Linked DNA regions of Homo sapiens. The protein of the gene in region 1 interacts with the protein of each later gene in a biochemical or structural test. Each region holds a gene or a part of one and is shown on either strand. Other genes may lie near its edges.

What was found.
Region 2: the proteins of RAB27A (region 1) and MYO5A form a complex in vitro, tested with the Homo sapiens proteins (one study listed by BioGRID).

Annotation. Positions count from the first base shown.
Region 1 is NC_000015.10:55,202,793-55,209,818, reverse strand, and holds the end of RAB27A (ras-related protein Rab-27A), read left to right. Parts: intron 1-4,113; coding exon 4,114-4,312; 3' UTR 4,313-6,853; downstream 6,854-7,026. UniProt on the Homo sapiens protein: Small GTPase which cycles between active GTP-bound and inactive GDP-bound states. In its active state, binds to a variety of effector proteins to regulate homeostasis of late endocytic pathway, including endosomal positioning, maturation and secretion.
Region 2 is NC_000015.10:52,315,863-52,322,888, reverse strand, and holds part of MYO5A (unconventional myosin-Va), read left to right. Parts: intron 1-1,379; coding exon 1,380-1,530; intron 1,531-3,546; coding exon 3,547-3,829; intron 3,830-5,666; coding exon 5,667-5,841; intron 5,842-7,026. UniProt on the Homo sapiens protein: Processive actin-based motor that can move in large steps approximating the 36-nm pseudo-repeat of the actin filament. Can hydrolyze ATP in the presence of actin, which is essential for its function as a motor protein. Involved in melanosome transport.

The DNA of each region.
Region 1 (7,026 bases):
CACATGTGTGTATATATGTATACATACACACATATGTGTGTATATATGTATATGTACACACATACACATATATATGTGTATATATATGTGTATATATATTAGTGGAAGTTTTCTTAAAAGTTTTATGTAAGTTTTCTTAGGAGAGAGATATATATATATCCCAAAAGATATATAGAGATGTATATCAGATATATCAAAAGGGTATTTGCTCTCTGTACTCCCATGTTTATTGCAGCACTATCCACAAGAGCTAAGATATGCAATCAATCTACCCATCAATGGATGAATGGATAAATAAAATATGGTTTATATATACAATGGAATGTTATTCCACCATAAAAAGAATGAAATCCCATCATTTGCAGCAGCTTGGATGGAACTGGAGATCATTATGTTATGTGAAATAGCCAAACACAGAAAGACAAATGTTGCATGTTCTTACTCATATGTGGGAGCTACAAAGGTGGATCTCATGAAGATAGAGAGTAGATTGGAGAATACCAGAGGCCAGGAAGGGTAGGAGGGAGTGGAGGATGAAGAGAGATTGATTAATAGGTACAAACATATGGTTTGATAGAAGAAATAAGATGTAGTGTTAGAAGGATCAGTAGGGTGACTATAGTTTACAACAATCTATTGTATATCTTGAAATAGCTAGGAGGGAAAAATTCCAATCGTTCTAGTATAAAGAAAAGACAAATATTTAAGATTATGGCAATCCCAAGTATACTTATCTTTACACATTATATCAGTGTATTAAATGATCATATTTACTCTGAAACTATATTATGCATAAATAAAAAATAAAATTTTCTTACAGATACAATTGAAGTCCCTTTTAAAATTCCTTGCTGATTCCATTCTCCTTCCTACCTCCTCAGAGGGAACCACACTATATCTACTTCCTATAGCAGATGTTGTTGGTTGCCTAGACAATATTCATGCCTTTATTTATAGAATCTCAATTTTCTTTAGCTATCTACTCTGCTTCTAGAGGACATGCTACTTAAGAGAGGCAGGTGCCAGCCACCAGCCCAGGAAGACTGATTGGTTTAAGCCAGTGATGGTGGTGTACCATTCCTCTTGCCAGAGTTTGGTTTAGGCATTGGCATGTGATACAGTTTTGACCAATGAGACACGAGGGAAAGTCTTCCAGGGACTTGTGGGAAAGATTTCCTCTCTCCTGAGGGAGGCACACAGAGGAAGAGTCCTTTCTTCCTTGGAACTTCGGTGTGTTGAGATGTGATGCCTGGAATGTTTTAACTTCTGGGGTCATGAAGGGAGTCAGATTGTGGAGAAAGCTGACATGTGGAGGATGGCAGAACAGAAGGATGATATGAATCTAGGCTCTTTGTTTCTACCGTTTGGCAACCGAATTAACACTGGAAACTCTCTAGTTCTGTGTTCATTATGCATTACAATAAATTCCTACTTGTGATTCATGCCAATTTGAGCCACAATTTTCGGTTACTTTTAGCTAAAAGCAGTCAAAATTATATATTTCTAGTCCAAGAAGTTGTACTTTTACTACATAGATGTTTTTATAATGATGTGTAATTGTTGTCTTCACACAAATGATCTTGTATCATACAAGTTGGTTTTTTAATTCAATGTTTAATTTTTGCCATGTTGATACAGTTTAAGCATTGTATAATTCATTGTATAAAAATATCACTATTCATGCGCTTATTGATGGACGTTTAGGTAAATTTTTTCCCTATTACAAATAGTTCTGCAATATCTATTCCATTAGACGATGCCACGTGCACATATGTGAGAGCTTCTCTAGGGCTGCACTATCCAGTGTGATAGCCACTGGTCACATGTAGCTATTTAAGTTAAAATTAAAAGTTCAGGTTTTTTGGCCAGGTGTGGTGGCTCATGCCTGTTATCCCAGCACTTTGGGAGTGGAGGCAGACAGATCACTTGAGGTCAGGAGTTTGAGACCAGCCTGGCCAACATGATAAAATTAGCTGGGAGTGGTGGCCTGTTCCTGTAGTCCCAGCTACTTGGGAGGCTGAGGGACGAGAATCGCTTGAACTTGGGAGGCAGAGGTTGCAATGAGCCAATATCACACCATTACACTCCAGCCTGGGCAACAAAGTGAGACTCCATCTCTAAAAAACAAAACAAAACAAAAACAAAAACAAAAAAGTCGCATTTTTGGTTGCATTAGCCACATTTTAAGTGCTCAATAGCTACATGTGGCTAGTAGTTATTGTACTGGATGATATACATATGGAAAGTTCCTGTCACTGTGGGAAGTTCTATTGGATAGTGCTGCTCCAGCACAGGGTTTCTGAATATTTTTCATAGGATGGCACCTGCAGAAAATGATAATATTTGTACAGCTCACTGGGATAAATAGATAAGGCTGCTCAAGTTTGGAGGAGACTGGTTCAGGGACTCTGGCTGCCCTAAGACCTTCTCAGTTGCCCTAAGGACTGAGGGATTGCTGATGTCTCATGTATCCCTGTAACTCACTTCCTGCCCATCAACATGCCTTGGCTCTGCTTTAGATGTATACCCAGGAGTGCTGTTGCTGGGTCATAGTGCATGCATGTTTCAATTTTATCAGATATTACCGTCTTATTTTCCAAAGTAGTTATTAACAGTTTATACTTACATAAGCAGTAAGTGCAAGTTCCTCTTTTCTTCTCCTTGGCAATACTTAATATTGGGAGATTTCTATATTTTTGCCAATCTGATGGGTGTGAGTTAATATACCATTATTTTAACTTGCATTTCCCTTATTTTGGGTGAGGTTGAACATTTTTTCACAAATGTAATTTCTTAGAATTTCCCGTGCATATCCTTAGTCTGTTTTGTATTATCTTGTTTATTACTTTAATTCATTTGAGGAATTATTTTTTCGGATGCTAACCCGTTTGCAAGTTATATGAAATGCCATGTATTTCGGCCTGTCGCTCATCTTTTAACTTTGCTTATGATATATGTTGTGGCACCAAAGTTTTAAACTTTAACATTGTCAAGATTATCAAACTTATTCTCTGTGGTTTGAGCTTTTATAGCTATATTAAGAAATCCTTTCTTATTCCAATGTCAAAAAGATAAGACTGTTGTATGTTCTTCTAAAAGTTTTCAAGTTTTACTTTTCACTTAGAGGAATTTAAACGGCTTTCATACCAATAATCAAGTTTTAAATTCTTAAAACTAGGCTGGGTGCAGCAGCTCACACCTGTAGTCCCAGCACTTTGGAGGCCAAGGCGGGTGGGTAGCTTGAGCTCAGGAGTTCGAAACCAGCCTGGGCAACATGGTAAAACCCTGTCTCTACAAAAAAATACAATAATTAGCCAGGTGTGGTGGTGTGCGCCTGTGGTCCCAGCTACTTGGAAAGCTGAGGTAGGAGGATCGATGCCTGGGAAGTCGCCTGGGAACTGAGATCGTGCCACTGCACTCCAGCCTGGGTGATAGAGACTCTGTCTCAAAACAAAAAACCCTCCAAAAACTTAAACGAAAAAAGATTTAATTCTGTCTCTGTCTTCCAGAATCCCCTACTTATATCTTTTTATAAATTTTTTACAGTAAATCAGTATGTATTGCCAAAATATATATATGGTCCTTTAAAAAATGAAAATTGATTTTTTTTGAGACAGTCTAACTCTATTGCCCAGGCTGGAGTGCGGTGGCACAATATTGGCTCACTGCAACCTCTGCCTCCCAGGTTCAAGTGATTCTTGAGCCTCAGCCTCCCCAGTAGCTGGGATTACAGGTGTATGCCACCATTCCTGGCTAATTTTTGTATTTTTTGTAGAGATGGGGTTTCCGCATGTTGGCCAGGCTGGTCTTAAACTCCTGACCTCAGGTGATCTGCCCACCTGAGCCTCCCAGAGTGCTGGGAGGTGTGAGCCACTGCGCCCAGCCAAAAATTGATATTTTGAAGAGTCTAAAATTTCCAGTTTTGCATATCTACTGGAAATGCAGTGTGAGTATTTTATTGTCTTTTTAACTTTTTAATGTACTCTGGGGTGGTAAAATGTTTGTCATCTTGTATATTTGTATTCTATCGATTCTCTAATTTGAATTATCAAGAGCAAAGGTCACTCTCCTTTCCCTCCACATGTTGTTACCTCAGTTGTCTCTGTCTTCCAGAATCCCCTACTTTGAAACTAGTGCTGCCAATGGGACAAACATAAGCCAAGCAATTGAGATGCTTCTGGACCTGATAATGAAGCGAATGGAACGGTGTGTGGACAAGTCCTGGATTCCTGAAGGAGTGGTGCGATCAAATGGTCATGCCTCTACGGATCAGTTAAGTGAAGAAAAGGAGAAAGGGGCATGTGGCTGTTGAGAAGTCAAGTAAGCGACATAGTAGTTCAGGTGGCCCATGCCTGGGATCTTCTCTATGATTGATACATGGCACAGTGAGAGATTAATGGGCATTGTGTACAAATTGCTTCTCACCATCCCCATTAGACCTACGAATAAAGCATCCGGTTCTAAAATTAATTTGTTGCAGCTTTGTAAATATTTCTTTAAGATTCAGCCTGAGAGTTAGGAGAAATATTTCAGAGCCAAAAGTGCCTTATACAACCTTAGCCTATTATAGTAAATCATTCAAGGATTCAGAATTTTGCAGTCACAGAAGAGTGTATTTATTATGTAGAATGAATGAGGGTACTGTCACCTGCCTTAATGTAGGTAGGCCCAGAGTCTTACATTTAAGATCTTACATGCAGTTATAAAACCGCCACAGTCTTCAATCCAGATTTGAAGACTCATGCCATAGGTGACATTCTAAAATACCATTAAAGCCACTTAAATGTTAAATAAGAATATACATGCACATCAGCTCAATGTCTTTGAGTATTAATTTTATGTAAGCATTCTATTTAACATGAATATAGGACAAATCATGGCTATATCTATAGACCTTGGATAAACTGGATTGACCAATTATACACTCACGGTGACTTTTTTATTGGTGGGAAGGGGATTGGGGTGGGGCAGGCTGGCTTAATGTAATATGAGCAACCAAAGTGGGACTTCTGTCTCCCCGCTATATTCCCATTGCTCTGAATGGTTGATTGAAGGGTCAGGGAACTAGATTTTATGGCTTTAGTTCACTGTGATTGTACATTTATACTTGGCCTATGTGCTGGCCGCACCTGAACATAGCTGGTGCTTATGCCGAGTTATTTGCGATGAGTAAATATTTAGTTTCTTTTTCTTCATATTTATAATGTTGATCTGGCATCCTCAGGCTGCAGCTTTATTAGCTTATAACTTACTCATCTCTATCTTTACCAGCAGGCTCTGTATTGTTGATATTTGCAACTTGTTTTGCTTTTCCATTGGTGGAATTGAAATAATTAGTTTTTAATTACATAAGATGCCTGTTTGCTATTTGGTGGAAGATAGATGTTCATATTGAAGCAGTCACATTTGTACTGTAGTTCAATAAAAGAAAAATGAAGTATTCTGTAGCCTATATTTTTCATAGAGCTCATGAGCATTTACTGTACTTGCTGGGTCTTGCCAAGATCATTTATTCCGCTGCATTGCCAAAGTGTCTTCATACCAAATTAAAGGTGGTTTTAATATATGTTTCATGGAAGTTGTTTATAAAATTCAAAGGTATTTCATTTAGGTGAAAAGTCTTATTTATTAAAGTGGTTTGAATAAAGTAGATCAAAACTTCCAGAGATCTTAATGGCTATATAGGAAGAAATATCACTCACCATAATTTAAATAAAGAATAAAAATACTTGTATTTTGTGGTGGCAAATGTTTGGTAGAACTGTAATTAGAAAAATACAAGTATATTTGCGTGATGGTTACACTAGAAGCCCAGACTTTACGACTACACAATATATTCATGTATCTAAACTGTACTTGTACCCCCTAAATTTATTTTTAAAAAAGGAAAAATAAAAGTATCATGAAAAAACCTATTTTTTTTTCCACTGTCCTTCCACTACTCCCATAACAAACTTATCCATGGTTGGTAAAATTTTACATATTTCTATCCTTGAAATGAAGGCTTCTTTTAAATTCCAAAGAAGTCATGGAGGCCTGTGCATTTGAATTGTATATGCTAGTGAGGAAAAGATTTAGACATTTCAAGAGCAGGGTTGGCCAGGCGCGGTGGCTCACACCTGTAATCCCAGCACTTTGGGAGGCCGAGGAGGGCGGATCACGAGGTCAGGAGATCGAGACCATCCTGGCTAACACAGTGAAACCCCATCTCTACTAAAAAAAAAAAAAAAAAAAAAATGGGCTGGGCGTGGTGGTGGGCACCTGTAGTCCCAGCTACTCAGGAGGCTGAGGCAGGAGAATGGCGTGAACCTGGGAGGCGGAGCTTGCAGTGAGCCGAGATTGCGCCACTGCACTCCAGCCTGGGCGACAGAGGAGACTCTGTCTCAAAAAAAAAAAAAAAAAAAAAGAGCAGGGTCATAATCACACAGCAGTGCCTTATATAGTTGCCATAAGACTTCAGTGCAGTACAACATAATTTTACAGCTACATATCAGGGCATATTCTATATGGTGTATTTGTGTTAGAATAACACATTAAATGTCTTTAAACATAAAAATAAGAATGTTTGCATGTTTCAGTTTTCAAGAACCAAATGAGTAATTAGCTATAGATTCCACTGGCCTTAAACATACAATTAAGTGTATACATGATATAGTGCACACACAAAAGCCACCTTTAATTATTGAAATAACCTGTATTCTTTTTGGAAATCATTTAAGTTTGGTATTGAAGTACTATATTTTTTGTGCATCAATGTATTTTTCTATTTACAAGCCTATGTAAAAGTGAAGTGTATCTTCAGTGAACCATGTGCCAATTAAGCTGTAATAAAAAAGTGGTCTAGTCTGTCAAATTTGTGTGTGAACGTAACTGTATTTATTATCACAAAGTTTCATACCAGAGGTTGTAATGCCAAAGGAAATGAAATTCAGGGATACACGTTCCATTAGGTGCTCACTGAGGGGCCAGCCAAGACAACATATTCTGGAAAAGTAATTAAAAATGTTATCAGGTTGGGCGCAGTGG
Region 2 (7,026 bases), 2.9 Mb from region 1:
TAACCTGCACATTGTGCACATGTACCCTAAAACTTAAAGTTTAAAAAAAAAAAAGAAAATTTTAATATTAATACTCTTGGACAATAAGAGGACCTTAAAATCCTTTAACTCTAAAAAAAAAAAGGGTGATCAAAAATCATGTCTTTCGATTTGTCCAAAAAAACTCTATTGTTTTTGTTTGTGGGGATATGTTCATTAGTTGTTTGATAGACTTCAAATATTTCAAAACTATGTAGAATATTAATAATGACTATTAAGGGCTGCTTTAGTATGTGTCAGACAGCACTTACTGTATATGGTGTTATTTATGATCATTAATTCTTACAGCATCTCTGTGAGGTAGGAATTATAGTCCAGTTTTACAGATGAGGAAGCCAAGGCTCACTGGGGCTCATTGATTTACCCAAGTTCTCTTGGCCACAAGGAGCAGAGCTGGGATCCTGGGTCTGGCACCGCTGAGGGCCCATGACCCTAGCCAACTGCCCTCCATGCCTCCCATCCCTTTGCCAGGAGGGCAGCAGAGAAGGTGCCCAGCGGCACTTCCTGAGCACTGACAGGCAGATGATGGGAAACACAGAGATGAGCAAGGCCTAGTCCCTGAGAAGATGGGGCCAACAGACCAGAATCCCTCAGAGGGGTCGTTGACTGCATCCTATCAGTCCCCACTTTCGGACCAGTCATTAAGTAGGTGGTAAGGAGGCAGATGCTTGGCTGTAGGGAGAATCCTCAGAGTAAGCACTTGCCTTTATCACGTAGCATCAGGCAAACAACGTGTTAAACTGCAAAGTGACTGGAAGAAGTGCCGCCCATTCAGTTCCATTTTAACAGATACCACCAAAGATTCCCTTCTAACCTCTGACTGAAAACCATGGTGTGGGTACTACGAAATAGAGTAAAGAGAACTTTTTGTATGTATTCACTAGTCTCTGTAGAAATCGGTCTATTTCAAGATTATATATGTCCTTTGGGTGTAGTTTTTAAGAATAGGACTATAAAGAACTGAAGTTAAGAGATAATTTAGATAATTTAGTGTTTGACAGTAAACCTGCTGTTTCAGAAGTGAAACACTCTATTTTTTTTTTTTTTTTTTTTTTTTAGTTAAGTTCCTCCAATTTGCTTCATTGACATTGCTATTGGGAAGACTTAAATGCTAGGTTGCCAAGTTAAGGTATTGTTCAAAAGCTAGTAAGAACTGGAGGGGGTTATGATGGAAGCAAACAAACACACATCAGCATTTGAGAATGTCAGTCCTGGCATTAGTGGGGAAGCTCCTTGGACAGAGCAGAAAAGAGCATGAAGATGCTGATCAAATTGGAGATAGTTAAACTGAAGAGACAGGTTACTTCATGTGTATCATTAACTTTGCCTTATGACTCTAGGGCTTTATGAAGCACAACACATCTCGCCAGAATGAACACTGCCTCACCAATTTTGACCTGGCTGAGTATCGGCAGGTGCTGAGTGACTTGGCCATTCAGATCTACCAGCAGCTCGTGCGGGTGTTAGAGAACATCCTTCAGCCAATGATTGGTAAGGCCAGGGCCCCACTGGGCATTGCAGCCTGCCTATCATTCATGCCCATCGATAAGTAGCCACCAGTGGCACATGTTTCAGGGCAGGTATTCATTTGGGGAGCATAAAGTAGTAAGATACAGGGCTAAAATTAGCCGAGGAATCCCAGAAACCCAGCCATAGTTAACTGGGATACATCGAAATCACTGTTTCCACAAGACTGAAACAGTAGTATATGGTTTCCTTCCCTAATGTTTACTGTTTAAATTCAGTTGAATGCATTGAATTTTAAAAAATTGTCTTAAGTTACCAAACATTGTTATCTTCCAGCAAATTATCAGCAGGCTCCCTTTTTTTTTTTTTTGAGACAGAGTCTCGCTCTGTCGCCCAGGCTGGAGTGCAGTGGCGCGATCTCAGCTCACTGCAAGCTCTGCCTCCCGGGTTCACGCCATTCTCCTGCCTCAGCCTCCCGTGTAGCTGGGACTACAGGTGCCTGCCACCACGCCCAGTTAATTTTTTGCATTTTTAGTAGAGACGGGGTTTCACCGTGTTAGCCAGGATGGTCTCAATCTCCTGACCTTGTGAGCCACTCACCTCGGCCTCCCAAAGTGCTGGGATTACAGGTGTGAGCCCCTGCACCCAGCCTATCAGCAGGCTCTTAAGGCTACTTCCAGCTACACTTTCTTTCCCCATGCATGCATTTTCCATGTTTCCACAACTTCTTCATTTCCCTTCTGTGGGCTCATAGTGTTCCCTTTGCTTTCATAGGCCACAGTTAACTAGCTATTTGAGACATCAAAAGCTGAAGAAGCCATGGGAGATGGCAATGTTTTCTTCAGATGTCCCTTAAAACGTCATTAAAGCACCCTAGGTTGGCAAAAATTTAGGAGGTAACACAGATACCAAGGTCAACTTCAGCCAGTTTTTCTATTGCTTTGCCTGTTTCTATTGGCTGAATAAGAAGTTCGCCTCAAAGAAGCCCCAATCTAAATCCTTACCCCCATCTCCCAGTCATTTAACAGCAACAACAAACATGCCGGTTCTAGGGAATCTGTGTTTAGCACAATTAAATAGCAAGATGAACCAGACGTGGCCTTTGCTCTCAAGGGGCTTGCTGTCAGGGAGTGGACATCTCAGAAACATTCTAAGGGAGGCATAAGCCAAATGCTAAGAGAGCACAACAGGGAAGCAGCCGGGCCACAGGTGAGAAGACGAATTCTGGGAGATGGAGGTCAGCCCAAGGGCCCACTGCTGTTGTGGGAAACCCAGAATAAGGAAGGGCCCAGCTCTCCAGACCCATACCACTCCCCTCTCCCACGTTTTCTCCAAGATGGTTGTCAGTGCCCTGCTTTTCTTACTGTTTTTGCCTCTGGGGCTCAGATAACATGGAGAATGCTTATCTTAACCCGAACTGCTACCTACCACTCTCAAAAGCCCACCCAAGACACACACACTTGTTCTATCACAAGGCTACTGCTTCTTAACGCTTCTTATTTTAGAAAAGACACCATTAAGTTTACTTAGATTCATAGTAAATTTTTGCAATTAAGAATTATTCCTTCAGTAAAGTTTAAAATCCGGAAGCCCTTTTGTAGTGAAGTTCCTTTTCCCTCTATTTTGGCACCCAGATCATTTTTTTCTTTTTTGAAATGGAGTCTCTCTCTGTCACCCAGCCTGGAGCCCAGATATGTGGTCTCAGCTCACTGCAGCCTTTGCCTCCCAAGTTCAAGTGATTGTCCTGCCTCAGCCTTCTGAGTAGCTGGGATTACAGGCACACGCTACCACGCCTGGCTAATTTTTGTATTTTCAATAGAGACGGGGTTTCCTTATGTTGGCCAGGCTGGTCTTGAACTCCTGGCCTCCAGTGATCCACCCACCTCGGCGGCCTCCCAAAGTGCTGGGATTACAGATGTGAGCCACCGTGCCCAGCTAATTTTCCTAAGTTGAATGTGCATGTGTTTGTGCACATGGATATGTGCACATGAAAGGTTCCCTTCCACATCATCTCCTCTAACAATTGAAATACTCCTGCAGTCTCAGGCATGCTGGAACATGAAACGATTCAGGGCGTGTCTGGGGTGAAGCCCACAGGGTTGAGAAAGCGAACCTCCAGTATCGCCGATGAGGGCACCTACACACTGGACTCCATCCTCCGGCAGCTCAACTCCTTCCACTCGGTCATGTGTCAGCATGGCATGGACCCTGAACTGATCAAGCAGGTGGTCAAGCAGATGTTCTACATCATAGGGGCCATCACCCTGAACAACCTTCTCCTGCGGAAGGACATGTGCTCCTGGAGTAAAGGCATGCAGATCAGGTGAGCAAATGCCAACACCTGCGACAGTGTCTTTTTGCTGCCCAGCTGGCCTGCCAGGGTTGTGGAGAGCTGATGACTTGTTTTCAGTTCTTGCATCTCATGTCTGGTGCCATGTGGCCAAGCAGCAAGGGAGAAACTGGCACGGAGCCACTTTCCCTTGCCTGGCTGGATTTCACCACATCTCATTATTGCTCCCTGTCTGTACCCTGCCAACAGGTTCTTCACATTCTTGATAGGAAACCCTTTTCCACTGTGAAGCTTGCTTATTTGGGGGAGTGAAGAGATGATGCAAAAATACACAAAGATGAGATAGCTGCTTCCTCTCCTTATGTGTGTGTTTTAATTATACAATAAGAAATTATTAAATTATAATAATGAAGATTTCTAATGTTTGATTGCTCTTAGAAATATATTTTTGGAAAAATACCTTTTTGTACCTATGGCAACAAGAACAGGTCTGATAGATCTTTTACTAATTCTTAAAATATCCCCCCTCTATATTTTAAGAAAAGCTGCACTTAATTTTATGCCCAATACTCCTCAGCATAACCTCATTATTGTAACATAATTTTTTTGCAAATTTTTTTTTTTTTTTTTTTTTTTGAGATGGAGTTTTGCTCTTGTTGCCCAGGCTGGAGTGCAATGGCGCCATCTCGGCTCACTGCAACCTCTGCCTCCTGGGTTGAAGCAATTCTCCTGCCTCAGCCTCCCAAGTAGCTGGGATTACAGGCATGCACCACCACACCCAGCTAATTTTTGTATTTTTTGTAGAGACAGGGTTTCACCATGTTGGCCAGGATGGTCTCAAACTCCTGACCTCAGGTGATCCACCTGTCTCGGCCTCCCAAAATGCTGGGATTACAGGTGTGAGCCACCGTGCTGGGCCACAAATTTTTTATTTTAAAACAGCTAGAATATTCACCAAGAGGAGGGAAAAATGATTTCTCCTATCAAAGTCTTAGTAGTTACTCAATCTCAGGAACTGTTAGTGTTCTTTTCAAATTTTCCATCCTGACTTACATTGAAGTGTAGTGAATTTTAAGACAATAATGCCTTCCTCTCAGATAGTGGAGCATATTTCTCTATAAGCTCTGCATGGAAATGTGGAGCCACCTGTCGCAATATTATGCTGGCCCCTATTTGCCTGGTTGCTAAGTGCTGATTGTGTGTCTATTGACCTCAGTCTTAGGACTGCTGCCACTTGGTTGGCTATTTTGTGAAACCTACAATGTCTTTGTAGTTTGTCTCTGTCACCATTTGGAGTCTTTGTCTCTTCCAGTGGCCCTCCCTTGCCTCTCTCTCCTTTCATCCCGGAGCTTTCTCAGGCCACCATCTTCATCTCCTAGGCTCTTCCCTTAAGGCTTCAGCACAGGTATATGTGGGGCTTTTGGTTATTCAGTTACCTGATTTGGAGTTTGCCTTAAGAGAGAGTGCTTCAAGGATTATCAAGTCTCACCCTGCAACAGCAACCCAGCTCTGAAATTGTAAGAGAAGCTACAAAGTGTTTTCTGGCCAGCTCCCCAATAAAGACAGAGCTACATTATGTTATTCTATTTTGTTTATTAGCAAGTCTAATAACTTTTGCCATAATGACTTCATTTCCATCTTCCATTAAAGAGAATTACATTATCTTGTCATTTAGTCTTATATAATGGTGATTATAATCCTCATGACTATAATAAATTTTTAAGCACAGCTGATGAGATTTAAGAAAATTGAACAAAAATACTGCCTGTCATTTTAACATAAATCCTGACAAGGCCGCACACAAAAAAATTAAGACATTTTTGACAAAATTCAGCAAATTTGCATTCTCTGTATCTCTTTTTTTTCATAGGTACAATGTCAGTCAACTGGAAGAATGGCTGCGTGACAAGAATCTGATGAATAGTGGGGCTAAAGAAACCCTGGAACCTCTCATTCAGGCTGCTCAACTTTTGCAAGTGAAAAAGAAAACAGATGATGATGCAGAAGCCATTTGTTCTATGTGCAATGCTTTAACTACTGCCCAGGTAGAGCAACTTTCCCTGTTACAAAATAATTTAACATTCATCAAAGATGATCTTTAGGGAAGTAAAGAAGTCCTCTACTTATTGCTTGTATCTCTGAGCTGACTTCATCTGTGTTCAAGAAGATATATGCCTCTACCAATCTTAAAGCAAGGAGATTTTGCCAGAAATTAATACATTTCAGTGCTAATTACAGTATAAATATATTTAATATTCAGCAAATATTTATTGAGTACTTACAGTGTTCTATATAACATTGAAGGCACTGGGATACACCCATAGGCAAAACAAAGTCTCTGCTCTCATGGAGTATACAGTCTATGCAGCTTATATTCCATAAAATAGCTTTCTATCTTATTTGATAATTGAGTGGATTATCAAATAGTGACTTTGTTTTTAGAGACAGATAATTCTTGTTACTTCAACAGATGATTAATTAAGCCTCCATCTCAAGGCACCATATTTATTGCTGGGGAAGATGCTTCAATAAATAAGGAAAAATTCCTGCCTTCAAGGAGCTTACAGTTCAGTAGGGAAGACAGAGTCGTATCCAACTGACTCTACCGTAGAGGTTCTAGCAAATTCTGTAGTAAGATGCCTAAAGGAAGTACTGAGGGAAGATAGCAGTATTCAGGGAAGGTCCCATTAATCTGGGCATTGAATTTAAGGAAGTGGAAGAATGAGAAGGGCATTTGAGGATTATAGTGACAGCATGAAGCAAGGCACAGGCATGAACATGCCCAATTTTCTTTTGCCCGGTTATTTTCTGTGCTGACTCTTAGACTTTCTTTCTTTTTTTTTTTTTTTTTTTTTTTTTGTGACGGAGTCTCGCTGTGTCGCCCAGGTTGGAGTGCAGTGGTATGATCTCCACTCACTGCAAGCTCCCCCTCCCAGGTTCACGCCATTCTCCTGCCTCAGCCTCTGGAGTAGCTGGGACTACAGGCACCTGCCACCACGCCTGGCTAATTTTTTGTATTTTTAGTAAAGATGGGGTTTCACCATGTTAACCAGGATGGTCTCGATCTCCTGACCTCATGATCCACCCGCCTCAGCCTCCCAAAGTGTTGGGATTACAGGCGTGAGCCACAGTGCCCAGCCAACTTTCTTAATGTTCATCATATATCCTACAACATATGAAATTTTCAGTTTTGCCCAATACAATTAAAACTCAATCAGTTTGAGACCAGC